Regions from separate parts of the Homo sapiens genome. Here region 1 is linked to region 2. A link means that fine-mapping ties the variant in region 2 to the expression of a gene that starts in the linked region. Tissue or cell type: blood mononuclear cells. Region 2 holds a variant in brackets; the other region holds the start of a gene. All regions are shown on one strand. Distances are between the middles of the regions.

Region 1 (8,101 bases), 70 kb before region 2:
ACCGTAAGTTACTTTCCCTGTTCTAGAACTTCATATAAACAGAAACATATGACATATATCCGTTTTTATCTGGCTTCTTTCACTTAGCATACTGTTTTTAAGCTTCATTCATGTTACTGCATGCAGCAATATTCAGTCCTTTCTGTTGCTGAACTGTTTTCTGTCATCATCCTGTGTGAATGTACAATAGGTTGTTTGTCCATTCACCTGTTGATGAACACTTGGGCCATTTCACTTTTGGCTTTTATGAATAAAACTCCTTTGATGTGAGCCAACATCGTGCCACTGCACTCCAGCCTGGGCAAAAGAGGGAGACCCTGTCTCAATTAAAAAGAAAAAAAAATATGCTATGATCACCTCCCTGTAGGCCTTGATGTGGGCCCATGTGTTTATTTCTCTTAGCTAAGTATCCAGGATTGAAACTGTGTTCCAGGACAGGTGTATGTTTCATTTTATAAGAAACTGTCAGGCCTTTTTCCAAGGTGGTTGTACCATTTTTCATGCCCACAACAATATATGAGGCTTATAAGTTGTGAGCCAAAGATAAAAATGCACAAATTGTAAACTGCTACTAATTATTTTCATTTGAAAATTTTAAGTAGGCCGGGTCTGGTGGCTCATGCCTGTAAATCCCAGCACTTTGGGAGGTCGAGGCAGGCGGATCACCTGAAGTCAGGAGTTCAAGACCAGCCTGGCCAACATGGTGAAACCCCATCTCTACTAAAAATACAAAAATTAGCCAGGCATGGTGGTGCACGCCTGCAGTGTCAGCTACTTAGCAGGCTGAGGCAGGAGAACTGCTTGAACCCGGGAGGCAGAGGTTGCAGTGAGCGAAGATTGTGCCACTGCACTCCAGCCTGGACAACAGAGCAAGACTCCATCACAACAACAATAACAACAACAACAACAACAACAACAAATGCCCAACAAACCAGGAATAGAAGGGAACATTCTTAACCTGATAAATACTATCTATGAAAAATCCACAGCTAACATCCTACCTAATGTTGTGAAAGACTGAATGTTTTCATCTAAGATCAGGAATAAGACAGGGCCAGGTGCTGTGGCTCATGCCTGTAATCTTAGCACTTTAGGAAGCTGGGGTGGGCGGATCGTTTGAGCTCAGGAGTTCAAGACCTGCCCGAGCAACATGGTGAGACCCCCTGGGTCTACAAAAAATACAAAAATTAGCCAGGCATGGTGGCTTGCACCTGTAGTCCCAGCTACTCAGGAGGCTGAGATAGGAGGATCAACTGAGCCTGGGGAAGTCAAGGCTGCAGTGAGCAGAGATCATGCCACTGCACTCCAGCCTGGGCCACAGAATGAGACCCTGTCTCAAAAAAAAAAAAAAAGAAAAAAAGAAAAGAAAAAAGAAAAAGAAGAGAAGCAAAACTATCTCTATTTGTAGATGACACGATCTTCTATATAGAAAATCCTAAGGAATCCACAAAAACAAGGTGATGAACCTTATGACACCCTGTAGAAATCCAGATTTCGTAGATTAGAAATCCAATGGCTTTGTTTAAACTGTCTCTTCCTCTGTTTTTACATTTTTTCCTCCACACTTGACAAAAACAAACCCAACTCTTTTTAAACCAACTTCCCTACCTCTTTCCTGCACTCATCCCTTCCTAAAGGTTTGCTCCTATAATTATTATCGTTGGAACTGCCCAACAAGACCCTCGTTTTCTATTTATCTGGATCTCCAGGCTCATTTCTTTCTTTGTATCCTATTTTCTATATCATGCTCAGAATTTTAAAGTTGCTTCCAGGCTGGGCGCGGTGGCTCATGTCTGTAACGCCAGCATTTCGGGAGGAGGGATTGCTTGAGTCCAGGAGTTTGAGACCGGACGGGCCAACATGGCGAAACCCTGTATCCACTAAAAATACAAAAATTAGCCAGGTGTAGTGGCGCGTGCCTATTGTCCCAGCTACTCGGGAGGCTGAGGTGGGAGGATCACCTGATCCTGGGAAGTCAAGGCTGCAATCAGCCAGATCACACCACTGCACTCCAGCCTGGGTGACAGAGTGAAATTCTGTCAAAGAAAGAAAAGAAAGAGAAAGAAAAGGAAGAAAGGAAGGAAGGAAGCGTATCTCCATTTTCATCCAAACAGGTATTTTTCTCTGCTACTACGTACCTCCTCAGAGCCCATCCCCCCTACTGGTCTGAGGCTTTTTTTTAAACAACTTTCTGGACATAGCCCCTCTTAAGACTAACAACCTATAGCCAGGCGTGGTGGCTCACGCTTGTAATCCCAGGATTTTGGGAGGCCGAGGCAGGTGGATCACCTGAGGTCGGGAGTACCAGACCAGCCTGACCAATATGGAGAAACCCCATCTCTGCTAAAAACACAAAATTAGGCTGGGCATGGCGGCGCATGCCTGTAATCCCAGCAACTCGGGAGGCTGAGGCAGGAGAACTGCTTGAACCCAGGAGGCGGAAGTTGTGGTGAGCGGAGATTGCGCCATTGTACTCCAGCCTGGGCAACAAGAGCGAAACTCTGTCTCAAAAAAACAAAACAAAACAAAAAGAGTAGCAACCTAGGCCGGGCGCAGTGGCTCACGCCTGTAATCCCAGCACTTTGGGAGGCTGAGGCGGGTGGATCACCTGAGGTCAGGAGTTCGAGACCAGCCTGGCCAACATGGTGAAACCCCGTCTCTACTAAAAATACAAAAATTAGCCGGGCGTGGTGGTGGGCGCCTGTAATCCCAGCTACTCGGAAGGCTGAGGCAGGAGAATTGCTTAAACGCAGGAGGCGGAGGTTGTAGTGAGTGGAGATCGAGCCACTGCACTCCAGCCTGGGCGATAGAGCGAGACTCCGTCTCAAAAAAACAAACAAACAAATAAACAAAAAGACTAGCAACCTCCTCTCCAGCAATGCCAACCCCAGTCCAGGCCCCCATCCGCCCAGGATCTCGATCAAAAAACATTAATCTGTGGCCTTTCTTTGCCATTTCCAACTCTGCCACCTCCATCGAACGACAAGGTCCCCTTCTTCCTTTCCATTCCCGTCAGCTTCATTTCCCTAATCTCCGTACAAATCCCTAGCCTGACTCCCTTTCCTTTCCATCCTCACCAGACGCCCGCATGCCGGACCTCAAAAGCGCAAACGCTAAAAACCGGTTGAGTTGACGCACGGAGAGAAGGGGTGTGTGGGTGGGTGGGTGTGTGTTAGTGTGCGTGCTTGCTTGTGTGTGGAAGAAACCAACAGGGTTCACGCTGGTGCCCATTTCTGGAAATGCCAATCGCGCCCGACTGCGGGAGCCAGGATCAGGTCCCCAGGGCGCCCTTGCAGACAGCACCCTGAGCGAAGGAGCTCAGAAGGCAGTCCGGCTTCACCCAGACCCCCAATCCCACAGAAGCGCCGTCCCCCAGCGGCACAGCACCCCCTCCCCGGCGCGGTGGTAGGGCCCGACGTGACGTCACCCATTGTTTACAAATCAACCCGAGCCGGCAGGATTCCGGCTCCCGCGGCTGCAGGCGCGCGGCTAGAGTGCCTGGCGGGCTCCGGCTTCCGCGTCCGCCCCGGCCCCGGTCCAGACTTAGTCTTCAGCTCCGCGCCCGCTCCGCCGCGGCCCACCGCGCCCGCCGGCAGCCGAGCCCCCAGCGACGCCCGCACAGCTCCGGGTGCCCAGACAGGGGGCCATGCCGTGCCGGAGGGAGGAGGAAGAGGAAGCCGGCGAGGAGGCGGAGGGGGAGGAAGAGGAGGAGGACAGCTTCCTCCTACTGCAGCAGTCAGTGGCGCTGGGCAGCTCGGGCGAGGTGGACCGGCTGGTGGCCCAGATCGGCGAGACGCTGCAGCTGGACGCGGCGCAGCACAGCCCGGCCTCGCCGTGCGGGCCCCCGGGGGCGCCGCTGCGGGCCCCGGGGCCCCTGGCTGCGGCGGTGCCGGCGGACAAGGCCAGGTCCCCGGCGGTGCCGCTGCTGCTGCCGCCCGCGTTGGCGGAGACTGTGGGCCCGGCGCCCCCTGGGGTCCTGCGCTGCGCCCTGGGGGACCGCGGCCGCGTGCGGGGCCGCGCTGCGCCCTACTGCGTGGCCGAGCTCGCCACAGGCCCCAGCGCGCTGTCCCCACTGCCCCCTCAGGCCGACCTTGATGGGCCTCCGGGAGCTGGCAAGCAGGGCATCCCGCAGCCGCTGTCGGGTCCGTGCCGGCGAGGATGGCTCCGGGGCGCCGCCGCCTCCCGCCGCCTGCAGCAGCGACGCGGGTCCCAACCAGAAACCCGCACAGGCGACGACGACCCGCACCGGCTTCTGCAGCAGCTAGTGCTCTCTGGAAACCTCATCAAGGAGGCCGTGCGAAGGCTTCATTCGCGACGGCTGCAGTTACGTGCAAAGCTTCCCCAACGCCCGCTCCTGGGACCTCTGTCGGCCCCGGTGCATGAACCCCCTTCGCCTCGCAGCCCTCGCGCGGCCTGCAGTGACCCTGGCGCCTCCGGGAGGGCGCAGCTCAGAACTGGCGACGGCGTTCTTGTGCCTGGCAGCTAACACGCCCGGGGTGGCCACAGCGCCAGCCTCAGACTGGAGGGCAAGGGGTTCCCTTGAGGGCTGCAGTTCTACTCAGGCTGGTGGAGAACTCTGGCTTTTGGAAGCGAGAGTAAAAAGCTAATGACGAGGAACCGAAAAATCGCGAGTGTTTCGCGGGTAACTGGGGTTGAGGGCCAAAATATTTGGAATGAAGGACTTTGGCCCTATTTAAGGCAGATTTTACAGAGCGCACCTCAAACGTACAAGTCAGTAGGACTCCTTATTTGGCGTGACCCGACCTGGCCGCGGAGCCTGCATTTCCTCGCAGCCTCTCAGTGCCCTCCAGCCCCGCGACCATGTGGCCACAATCCACGCTTCTCCGGATCGCGGTGCGCCGGAACCACGGAGGATGATGCCAGTTACTTGCTTTACCTTTTCAGGGCTGGCTCCTGATCCACTTTGGGGGAGGAGAACATGAGTAGATAATTTCAGGGTGCAGCCCAATCTGCCAGACTTAAAAAAACCATCTTGTGTCTTTGGAGGTGCTGCTTAATACCAAACATGCGGTGCCATGAAGGGACCCTTTGGGGGTTGAATAGGAGTTAACCCCTGCGCTCTCTTTGCAACTGTCTCTCTTCTCAGAGTGGTGGGGGAAGGCTGTACGACACGGGTGGGGAAAGGAGGTGGGGGCGGGGAGTATTGAATGGTGGTGGAAGGGTAGAGAGGCGCGGAGTGAACCCCACGCCCTGTCTAAAGTGTATTTTCAGAGCCGGCCCGCCTCTCCTCGGTTCAAGGTCACTGTTTCCTGGGCACGCACTGGGTTGCGGGACAGAGTAGCCAGGTTCTGCCGGTGCTCGGAGAAGAGCGCAGTGTTTTGCAAGTGCTGGAGTCTCCTGAGGACACGCGCGTCGCCGCCACCGCGGGTGTGGGAAAGCGCGGACGTGCTGGGCGGCTGTGCTTCGGTAGGCGACCACCGCCCCTGGCCGCGCTCCGGGCTTTCACGGAAACTCCCGAGACCGGGCCCTGGGTTCCTCCTCTCCTACTCGGCTCTGCAGTCCTACTCAAGCGGGTGGCTCTGGGATCCTGGGGGCCTGGGTTGGGGGCTAGGGAGACGCCATGTGATGGACACTCCAGGGACACACAGCCTAGCACAGCAGCTTATAATGGGCTCTCCGGGGCCATTTGCAATAACAGCTGCAATTCCCTGGATAGACGAGTTGATTTCCTCCCTCTGCCCCTCCCCCAGCCATGCCAGCTGGCCTTTGTAAGTGCAGGAAACCGAGTAGAAAATGTGACCCTCCAAATGGAGAAGCTGCAGGCTTTGCCATTGTGAACCATGGTGAAGTGCTTGGAACATACTGTTCACTCACTCTAAAGGCGCTGAGACTGTGCTGTTGTTCTCGTTTTTATAGTCAATGGCTTGTTCATCATCCAGATGTGGCTACTGACATATCTACACTTCGCACCGGAGTGTCTGGAATTGTGGCTATCCTGATTATAGGATTTTAACTTAACTGAAATGCCTGCTTTGAATAAATGTGTTGGGTTTTTTGTTTGGTTTTATTTTATACTTGCCATCAGTGAAAAAGATGTACAGAACACATTTCTCTGATCTCCATAAACATGAAAACACTTGAAATCTCTGTCAGCCTGGCTTGTGGATGGTAATTAGAGCGCCTTTGTGTCTGAGCAGCTCACTAGCTAGACAAGGTCTCCGCAGCTGGGTGTGTATTGGAGCTGGCATGAAATTAAATGAAAGTGAGGTCAGGTTTTGGACCAATCCCATTCGTTAAAACCTCAGAGCCTTTTGGATTACTAGTCAGTGATGGAGATGTGTTATAAAGCTGCCTCTATTAGCAAAGGACATCAGATCAGCCAGTCACTGCAAACTGGGAGGCTTATCTTTTTTTTTTTCTTTTTCTTTTTTTCTTCTTTCTCACCGTGGCCATTAAGTGCACTTGTTCCACAAGGTGGGCCTTAAGGCTGGGGCAGCTCTTGATTAGGAGACTGCTCACAATGTGAGCCTGGTGGTAGGAAAGCTGGGTGGAAACTTACAAAAGACTCCTGTCTTTGCCCCTGGCACATTTATACCATTCTGTCCCTAAGCAGTGACATAACAGGCCATGTCTATCCTTATGGTTCTGACTTACTTCAGTCTGTTCCCTCATGGAAGGAGCTAATTTCCTCCCTCTGAGGAAAGAGTACCCAGAGTTTAAGCCCACTTCTGAAGTGGGAAGGGAACCTTGGACAAGTTGCTCTACCTCTGTGGCTTCAGTTTCCTCATCCGTACAACAGGGATAATGAAATAAAAGGTGGGCCAGGCCCAGTAGTTTACACCTGTAATCCTAGTAGCACTTTGGGAGGCTAAAGTGGAGGATTGCTGGAGCCCAGAAGTTCAAGACCAGCCAGGGCAACATAGTGAGACCTCACCTCTCCAAAAATAAATAGATAAATGGCCGGGCACAGTGGCTCATGCCTGCAATCCCAGCACTTTGGGAGGCCAAGAAGGGCTGATCACGAGGTCAGGAGTTCAAGACCAGCCTGACCAACATGGTGAAACCCCATCTCTACTAAAAATACAAAAATTAACTGGGCATGGTGGTGCATGCCCATAATCCCAGGTACTCAGGAGGCTGAGGCAGGAGAATCGCTTGAACCTGGGAGGCAGAGGTTGCAGTGAGCTGAGATCGCGCCACTGCACTCCAGCCTGGGCGACAGAGCGAGACTCTGTCTCAAATAAGATAAAATAAAATAAATAAATAAATGAGGCAAGAGGATTGCTTGAGCCTAGGAGTTTGAGGCTGTCGTAAGCCATGATTGAGCTACTGCACTCCCACCTGGGTGGCAGAGCAAGACCCTGCCTCAAAAAAATAAATTAATAAAAGGCATATGGTGACTGGCACATGCTGCAGATGAACAGTATCTAGTCCCTACCCCTTCCTTCCCAGGTGGCGGTGTCCCAGGTGTCCTCATTTTCCCACAAAACAAGAGCATGCCATGATCCCAAATCTGCTTTCTGGAGTGTTCTATGACTTCGAGTCCTGATTTTCTAACTTCCTTTTTGGTTCAATGCCCCATTTTCTCAAATTCACACACAGACGCTGATGGTCTCTGAGGAGTACCTTCAGAACACACCAAGCCTGCCATTTCCCACAACATGCCCAGAAAGGGCTGTGGGGGCCTCAGTCCAGTGTTCTCCAGCATGGGAAGGGTAACTATGGAGGCTCTAATACAAACTGAGGAAAAGGAGCCCCCAATAGTGTAGTGGGCACCACCTCTGGGCGCTGAGCATGAGGGGAAAGTGGCCAGGTGCTGATGTCCCCTGGCATGGGAGTAGCCCTGAAGTCCCCAGTTCCCATTCTTAGTTGATGTACGATTTATCCAAGGTCAAGGGGTTATGAGCAATCCAGGGCTTTCCATCCTGAAATAGGCTATGATTTGATGTCACTGCACCGACTGTGCATAGCTTCTTGTAATAAGAATGACTGGTTAAGTTCAGACTCAACCTTAGGGCCCATGCAGAACAACCCACTCCTAAAAAAGGAAAATTGGGAAAAACTAAAGCCTCTCTACATAAAGCAAGTTAGCACTCTAAACACATTATAATCCAGTAACCGTTCATCTGTGTTTTTATTT
Region 2 (8,101 bases):
GTCAAGGGTCAAGGTCCCAGCTCCTGGGGACACTGATGTGAATTTGATGGCTGGTCTCCAATCTTCCTTCCCCTTCTACTGGCCTCTTCCACTAGGACAACCCAGCCCAGCCAACCTCACTCTGTAGACAAGGCGCAGGGCCAGTGCCCCCAGCACAGCCTCCCAAGGCACCACCCCCGACCTAATGCCCCCACATCCCACCAACAGGCCTCACCGTGATGATCTGGGCGTTGAGCTCTGCTGACAGGGTGCTCAGGCCAGGCCTGGCGTGGAAGAGGCTGTGAAAGGCCTGCATGGCACAGGCTGTCACCAGCTGGAGGGGGACACACAGGCTTAGAAAGGAACTACAAAGCCCACGGCTGGCCCTGGACCCCTCAACTCCACCTGTGTGCTAGGGAGTTGAGGGCCCCCTGAACCTCACACATGCCCCCCACACAGAGACACCCTGAGGACTGCCACCTTAGTAAGACATGGAAGCCACTGAAAAAGCTTTAAATGTCTTAAACAAAGATAGAAACATTAACAAAATGGTTTTAACATAACAGCCAAAAAAGCAGGCTATAAACGGTCTGTTACAGCTGTATTTTTTTTTTTTTTTTTTTTGAGACAGAATCTTGCTCCGTTGCTGGATACAGGGGTGAGACCAATACAGGTGCATGCCACTGTGCCTGGCCAATTTTTTAATTTTTATAAAGACAGAGTCTCGTCTCACTATGTTGCCCAAGCTGGTCTCAAATTCCTTGCCTCCTGCCTTAGCCTCCCAAGTGCTAAGGTTACAGGTGTGAGCCACTGCACCTGGCCTTTACATGTTTTATCATGTATATTTGTTTATCCAAAGAGAAAATGTCTGAAAGGATACCCAGAAAGTTATTTGCACTGTCTACCTTAGGAAACAGGATTTGGAGGGAAGGAGATTTTTACTTTATACACTTCTGAATTGTTTTTCCCTTTTAAACAATGATCATATTATTTATATTTTACAATTTTAAAAATATGTATGTAAATAAACACTACAAGAGAATATACAAGGCCGGGTGCAGAGGCTCACATCTGTAATCCCAGCACTTTGGGAGGCCGAGGTGAGTGGATCACGAGGCCAGGAGATCGAGAGCATCCTGGCTAACACGGTGAAACCCCGTGTCTACTAAAAATACAAAAAACTAGTCAGGTGTGGTGGCGGGCGCCTGTAGTCCCAGCTACTCGGGAGGCTGAGGCAGGAGAATGGCGTGAACCCGGAAGGCGGAGTTTGCAGTGAGCCGAGACCACGCCACTGCACTCCAGCCTGGGTGACAGAGCGAGACTCCATCACAAAAAAAAAAAGAGAGAGAACACACAGTGAGTTGGCGGGGGTATCTGTGGGGGATTGGTTCCAGGACCCCCCATGGACATAAAAATCTACCAATGCTCAAGTCTCTATATTAAATGGTGTAGTATTTCCATATAACCTACACGCATCCTCCCATACACTTTAAATCACCTGGATTACTTATAATACGTAATACAATATAAATGCTATGTAAATAGTTGCTACACTCTGTTGTCTAAGGAATAATGACAAGGAAAAAAAACTGTACATGTTCAGTACAGAAGCAACCAACCATTTTCTTTTTCCTGAATATTTTCTTTTCTTTTTCTTTCCTTTTTTTTCTTTTTCCTTTTTTTTTTTTTTTGACATGGGGTTCTTGCTCTGTTGCCCAAGTTGGAGTGCAGTGGCATGACCATGGCTCACTACAGCCTCAACCTCCTGGGCTCAAGCAATCCTCCCACTTCCACCTCCCAAGCATCTGGGATTATAGGCGCGTGCAGCCATGCCCAGTTTCCAAATATTTTCAATCCAAGGTTGGTTGAATTTATGGCTGTGGGAACCACACATACAAAGAGCTGACTGTATAAAGATTTACAGAATTGTGCTAGAAATGGTAGAAACACAGGAAATCATTTTTCATGTGTCTTTAAAGCTGCTAAAAAAAAAAAACTCGACCGGGCGCAGTGGCTCACGCCTGTAATCCCAGAACTTTGGGAGGTTGAGGCGGGCAGATCACCTGAGGTTGGGAGTTCAAGACCAGCCTGATCAACATGGAGAAACCCCATCTCTACTAAAAATACAAAAAATTAGCTGGGCGTGGTGGTGCATGCCTGTAATCCCAGCTACTTGGGAGGCTGAGGCAGAAGAATCGCTTGAACCCGGGAGCCAGAGGTTGCAGTGAGCCAAGATCGCGCCATTGCACTCCAGCTGTGCAACAAGAGCAAAACTCGGTCTCAAAAAAAAAAAAAAAAAAAAAAAAAAATTGGTATAGGGTACATAGAGCTGGTGCAGAAGGAGGGTTTACCAGCCCACTACAGATCCACCCTGACTCTGACCTGATCTCTGAGGTCAGCTTCCATCTGGAAGGGGACTCTGATATGGCCTGGCCTAGCCAAACACCACAGAGTAACGTAGTGCTGTTGGTTTTAGCTTAAGAACACAGTCAGGGAGGGAGACCCCAGGCCCTGCATTTTGACTGACCAGTGAGTTCCCCAAATGCCACCACTGCAGGTCCCCCTTTCTCCAGCTTTTGGGCCTGAGCTCACCACATGGCTCAAGGTCATGACCCTGAGGAGAGTCTCACTGCAGCTCTTCACCAGGCCTTCCGGGAAGCAGGGCAGCAGGTCCTTCAGCAGCGTCAGCATGTGCAGCGTGGTGGTGGCCTCCTTGGAGCCTGGTATACAGAAGAGGAATTGAGACACCAGCCCCGCCCTACCGCAGGCCCTGTCCTGCTCTGCCAGCCACTGCCTCCCATCCACCTGCCCTCCATTTGGGTTCCCCACCTCCAGACTTCTCAATCTCCTGGATGCAGAACTTGGCAGTGGAAATGGCAGCAGGATGATGGGCAGGGGCCTTTTCAAACATGAATTCACTGCCCTTGAGGACTGAGCATACTCCATGCTGGGCAGCCTTCCGGATCTGAGGGGCAAGGAGAGCAGGAGACAAGGCCAGATCAGCGTTCCACCAGCATCTTGGGTGTCCGGCACAAGCACCAACCAATTAGCTTTGGCTGAAATATAGATCCAATGATGATCTGACTACTATAGATCCAGTGCTACACCAGGGCCTTCATGTGTACAGAATCCTGAGCTGTGAAGCAAGACAAACCTCAGTTCAAATCCCTGCTCTACAACTAACTCACCAAATGGCCTTAAGCAAGCCCAACTACTTAATTTCTGAGTTTCAATATCATCTTGAAAACAGGGGTTTCTTCATTCACTTAATCATCCGGCAAACACTGTGTGTCCACCAAGCCAGGCACTGTTCTAGGTCCTGGCAAACTGGCACTGAACAGCAGGCAACTCCCCTTCCAGCTGGGAGGCAGAAAACAAA[T/C]ACATAACAGAAGGTTAAAAAGTACTTTGCAGATAACCAAGCAGGGGCTGCTACTTTTGTTGTTGTTGTTTGTTTGAGACAGAGTCTTGCTCTGTAGCCCAGGCGGAGTGCAGTGGCGGATCTCGGCTCACTGCAAGCTCCGCCTCCCAGGTTCACGCCATTCTCCTGCCTCCGCCTCCCGAGCAGCTGGGACTACAGGCGCCCGCCACCACACCCGGCTAATTTTTTGTATTTTTAGTAGAGACGGGGTTTCACTATGTTAGCCAGGATGGTCTCGATCTCCTGACCTCGTGATCCGCCCGCCTCGGCCTCCCAAAGTGCTGGGATTACAGCCGTGAGCCACCGCGCCCAGCCAAGGGGCTGCTACTTTTTATACAGTGGTCAGGAAAGTGTCACCGCAGTGAAGTGCCACTGCAGCGAGAGCTGAAGGTGAGGAAAAGATCATGTGAGCACCGAGGGAAGGGGGCATGAGACCATCTGGGCTGACGGTGCTTAGCACTGGGAGTGATTACATGACTGTTATTGTTACCACCTCCTGCCCTAAATTTCCAGAGGAAACAGTGGGGAACCATCACTCACCAAGCACCTGCCGTGAGCCAGGAGGTGCGCCAGGCCTGTGGGGAACACTGGAGTCTCCCCACAACTCTGTAGCAAAGTAGGTGTGATTATCTCTATTTCTTTTTTTTTCTTTTGAGATGGAGTCTCGTTCTGTTGCCCAGGCTGGAGTGCAGTGGTGCAATCTTGGCTCACTGCAACCTCTGCCTGCTGGGTTCAAGCGATTCTCCTGCCTCAGCCTCCCGAGTAGCTGGGATTACAAGCACCCACCACCACACCTGGCTAATTTTTATATTTTTAGTAGAGTCGAGGTTTCACTATGTTGGCCAGGCTGGTTTCAAACTCCCGACCTCAAATGATCCTCCCACTTTGGCCTCCCAAAGTGCTGGGATTACAGGCGTGAGCCACCACATTCAGCCAATTATCTCTATTTCATAGTCAGGAAGTTGAGGCTCAGAGAGATTAAGTAACTTGCCCAAGGTCACACCTCGAGCAGTGAATTCAGGATCCAACTCAGGTCTGTGTGACTCCCCCAACTATGCCACCCTCCCTGCCGAGGTAAATAGACATATGGGGAGAGTCCACGTCAACAGGGCAATGGCTGATGAGGCACCAGAGACTCAGATAGGGCTGACAGGGAACAGCCTCCTGGAGGAGGAAGAGCCGCCCTGCCTTCTGCATCTAAATGCATGGTGCCTCAGAAGCAGAAAGCAGAAGCCAGTACTCAGGGCAAGCTCCCCAGTGCCACTCAGCTAGCCAAGTCTGGGCTGCACTGGGCTGAGTGGTGGCTGTCCCCTTGCCCCATTTTCTAGGGAGCTAGTAGTCTCACCTTGGGCTTGGGATGCACCGTGAAGCTCAGCAGCCCATGGTACACCTGAAGGGTCACGGGGTAGCCCCAGGCCTCCAGGTCTTGCTTCCGCAGAAGGGTGGCCAGGCAGGAAAGGACCTGGAAGAAAGTCAGAGTCCCTCAGTGCCACCAGCCTCGGCCAGGAGGGAAAAGAGCCCAGGTTCTCACTGACTCCAGAAAATCGCATCTGTCTGAGGTCCCCAGGGTGCCTAAACCCCTCTCAGGGAACATCTAAGCATCACCAAATCAGACAGGCTCTGGGAGTCGCCAGATGAGAAACTAAACCCCAGACACTAACCCATCGGAGGACAGAGGTGGAGCCGCTGCTGGCCTGAGCTGACATGATATCCATGAAGGCTTTGGAGGTATCAGAGAACTTCTTAATAAGCACAGGGCTGGGAACACTGTGGGAAAGAACAGAGATGGTCACCCCAGAGGGTCCCTGAAGAGCAGCTGGTGCAGCCCCTCGTGGTACTAAGGAGGACAGGGCAAGGGGCGCTGGTGGCACAGTCACTCAGAAAGTGAGCAACAAAGTCAGAATAGGCACCCACCTTATCAGCCAGCTCAGTGTGCTTTCCACCCGGGATCCCTGCCTCTCTCACCTTCCCACTACCCACTCCTAAACTCAGGACACCAATCCTCTCTCCACCTCCCCTGGCAGTTCACATCTCCAGAAAGCCTGGGGCCAACTACTCCTTCCCTCCCTTCTGCCACTCACTGCTCCAGGAATGCCCCTTCTGGGGGCCAACACTCACACTCCCTGGTATAATGACCCAGTCACCCAGGACCTTATGTTGTAGAATGCCACCTGATATACAAGTATCTTTTAAATTGTATTTTAAAATTTCTGGCCAGGCATGGTGGCTCACGCCTGTAATCCCAGCACTATGGGAGGCCAAGGTGGGCAGATAACCTGAGGTCGGGAGTTTGAGACCAGCCTGACAAACATGGAGAAACCCTGTATCTACTAAAAATACAAAATTAGCTGGGCGTGATGGCGCCCGCCTGTAATCCCAGCTACTTGGGAGGCCAAGGCAGGAGAATCACTTGAACCCGGGAGGTGGAGGGTGTGGTGAGCTGAGATTGCACCATTGCACTCTAGCCTGGGCAACAAGAGCGAAACTCTGTCTCAAAAATAAATAAATAAATAAATAAATTTCTAATTGTGGTAAAATACACATAAGATAAAACATCATTTCGGCCGGACGCAGTGGCTCACGCCTGTAATCCCAGCAGTTTGGGAGGCCGAGGCGGGTGGATCATGAGGTCAGGAGATCGAGACCATCCTGGCTAACACAGTGAAACCCGGTCTCTACTAAAAATACAAACAATTAGCCAGACGTGGTGGCGGGCGCCTGTAGTCCCAGCTACTTGACAGGCTGAGGCACGAGAACGGTGTGAACCCAGGAGGTGGAGTTGCAGTGGGAGGAGGTGGCGCCACTGCACTCCAGCCTGGGCAACAGAGCGAGACTCTGTCTCAAAAAGGAAAAAAACAACACACCATTTCAACGATATTTTTCGGTATATCATTCAGTACTGTTAAGTATATTCATGTTGTGGGTTTTTTTTTTTTCTTTTTTTGGAGACAGGGTCTCACTCGTCACCCAAGCTGGAGTGTAGTGGCACAATTAGGCTCACTGCAACCTCTACCTCCCAAGTAGTTGGGACTACAGGTGCATGCCACCACGCCTAGCTCATTTTTGTATTTTTTTGTAGAGACAAGGTTTTGCCATGTTGCCCAGGCTGGTTTCGAACTCCTGGGCTCAACAGTCCACCTGCCTCAGCCTCCCAAAGTGCTGGGATTATAGGTATGTGTCACCACACCCAGCCAAGTATACTCACATTGTTGTGCAACCAATCTCAAGAACTTTTTCATCTTAAAGAATCAAGGTTTTTTATTTTTTACTTTATTACTTATTTATTTATTGAGATGGAGTCTCACTCTGTTGCCCAGGCTGGACTGCAGTGGCTTGATCTTGGCTCAATGCAACCTCCACATTCTGTGTTCAAGTGATTCTCCTGCCTCAGCCTCCCAAGTAGCTGGGATTACAGGCATGTACCACTACACCTGGCTAATTTTGTATTTTTAGTAGAGATCGGGTTTCACCATGTTGGCCAGGCTGGTCTCCAACTCCTGGCCGCAAGCAATCCTCCTGCCTCAGCCTCCAAAAGTGCTGGGATTACAGGTATGAGCCACTGCGTCCAGCCATGACTTTTAATTTTTATTACTCAAAACAAATTTCATTTTCTTTCTATTTTTTTTTTTTTGAGACGGAGTCTTGCACTGTTGACAGGGCTGTAAGTGCAATGGCATGATCTCAGCTCACTGCTACCTCTGCCTACTGGGTTCAAGCAATTCTCCTGCCTCAGCCTCCCGAGTAGCTGAATTACAGGCACCTGCCACCATGCCCAGCTAATTTTTGTGTTTTTAGTAGGGACGGGGTTTCACCATGTTGGCCAGTTTGGTCTCGAACTCCTGACCTCAGGTGATCTGCCCACCTCAGCCTCCCAAAGTGCTGGGATTACAGGCGATCTGCCCACCTCAGCCTCCCAAAGTGCTGGGATTACAGGCGTGAGCCACAGCATGTAGCCTACCCAGCTAATTTTTATATTTTTAGTAGAGGCGGGGTTTCACCATGTTGGCCAGGATGGTCTCGATCTCCTGACCTCTTGATCTGCCTGCCTCGGCCACCCAAAGTGCTGGGATTATAGGTGTGAACCACCGCACCAGGCCAAAAAAGTTTCATTTTCAATAGAGCTTTCTGACTCTGCTTTTGCCTTCAACACTTTCACAATGATTTTCTGCTCCTCAATAAGGAAAGCACACTTGATTCTGTCATGAACACACTGAGCACACATGGAACCAGGGAAGCACTGCAGGCCCTATAGACATGCCTTTTGTTTTGGACTATCAAATAACAACTTTAGATCTCACAGCACGAGCTCCTGAATGTCTGCCTGGACACACACCACGTGAAGATTTTGGTGCTTTCCCAACCTTCTTGGCATAAAGGTAAATGATTCTATTACCAGGGGTTCAGGACAGCCTAGTTTAGTTAGAGTTTCTCACTAGAGGCCTACGACGGTATGTCACATGCTGGCCCATTCTGCATGCCTCTAGACAATGTTCATGAAGAGCAAGTATCTTTTTAAATAACAATTCCCTGATCCTGTTTCTCCTGTCCACATTCCCTTCTCCCCTCCACAAAAAGCCTTGGGGTTCAAACAGGAGGCAGAACTCACCGCTTCAGGACAAGGTTCAGCAGGTAAGCAACGGCGGCCAGGGACTCCGGGGACTCCACTGCTTCCATTGTTGTCATCTGAGGGCCAGATTGAGGGGG

The links. PIP is the estimated chance that this variant, and not a neighbour inherited with it, causes the effect.
Region 1: FRAT1 starts here. The variant in region 2 is fine-mapped to the expression of FRAT1 in blood mononuclear cells (TOPMed, PIP 0.97).

The regions. Positions count from the first base shown.
Region 1 is chr10:97,315,808-97,323,908 of GRCh38, forward strand. FRAT1 (FRAT regulator of Wnt signaling pathway 1) reads left to right here and starts at 3,464. Exons shown (of 1, transcript NM_005479.4): 1 at 3,464-6,108. The coding sequence starts at 3,647. The coding sequence ends at 4,486. RefSeq lists enhancers at 2,778-3,567, 3,305-3,599, 4,689-4,848 and silencers at 3,439-3,748, 4,249-4,348.
Region 2 is chr10:97,385,681-97,393,781 of GRCh38, forward strand. It overlaps RRP12 (ribosomal RNA processing 12 homolog), which reads right to left. Exons shown (of 34, transcript NM_015179.4): 4 at 8,004-8,080; 5 at 5,059-5,164; 6 at 4,743-4,859; 7 at 2,809-2,944; 8 at 2,572-2,699; 9 at 215-313. It also overlaps the pseudogene RPL34P20. Among named protein-coding and RNA genes, the nearest start is that of RRP12, 12 kb to the right of the region's middle. The variant T/C (reference allele first, on the strand shown) is at 3,359.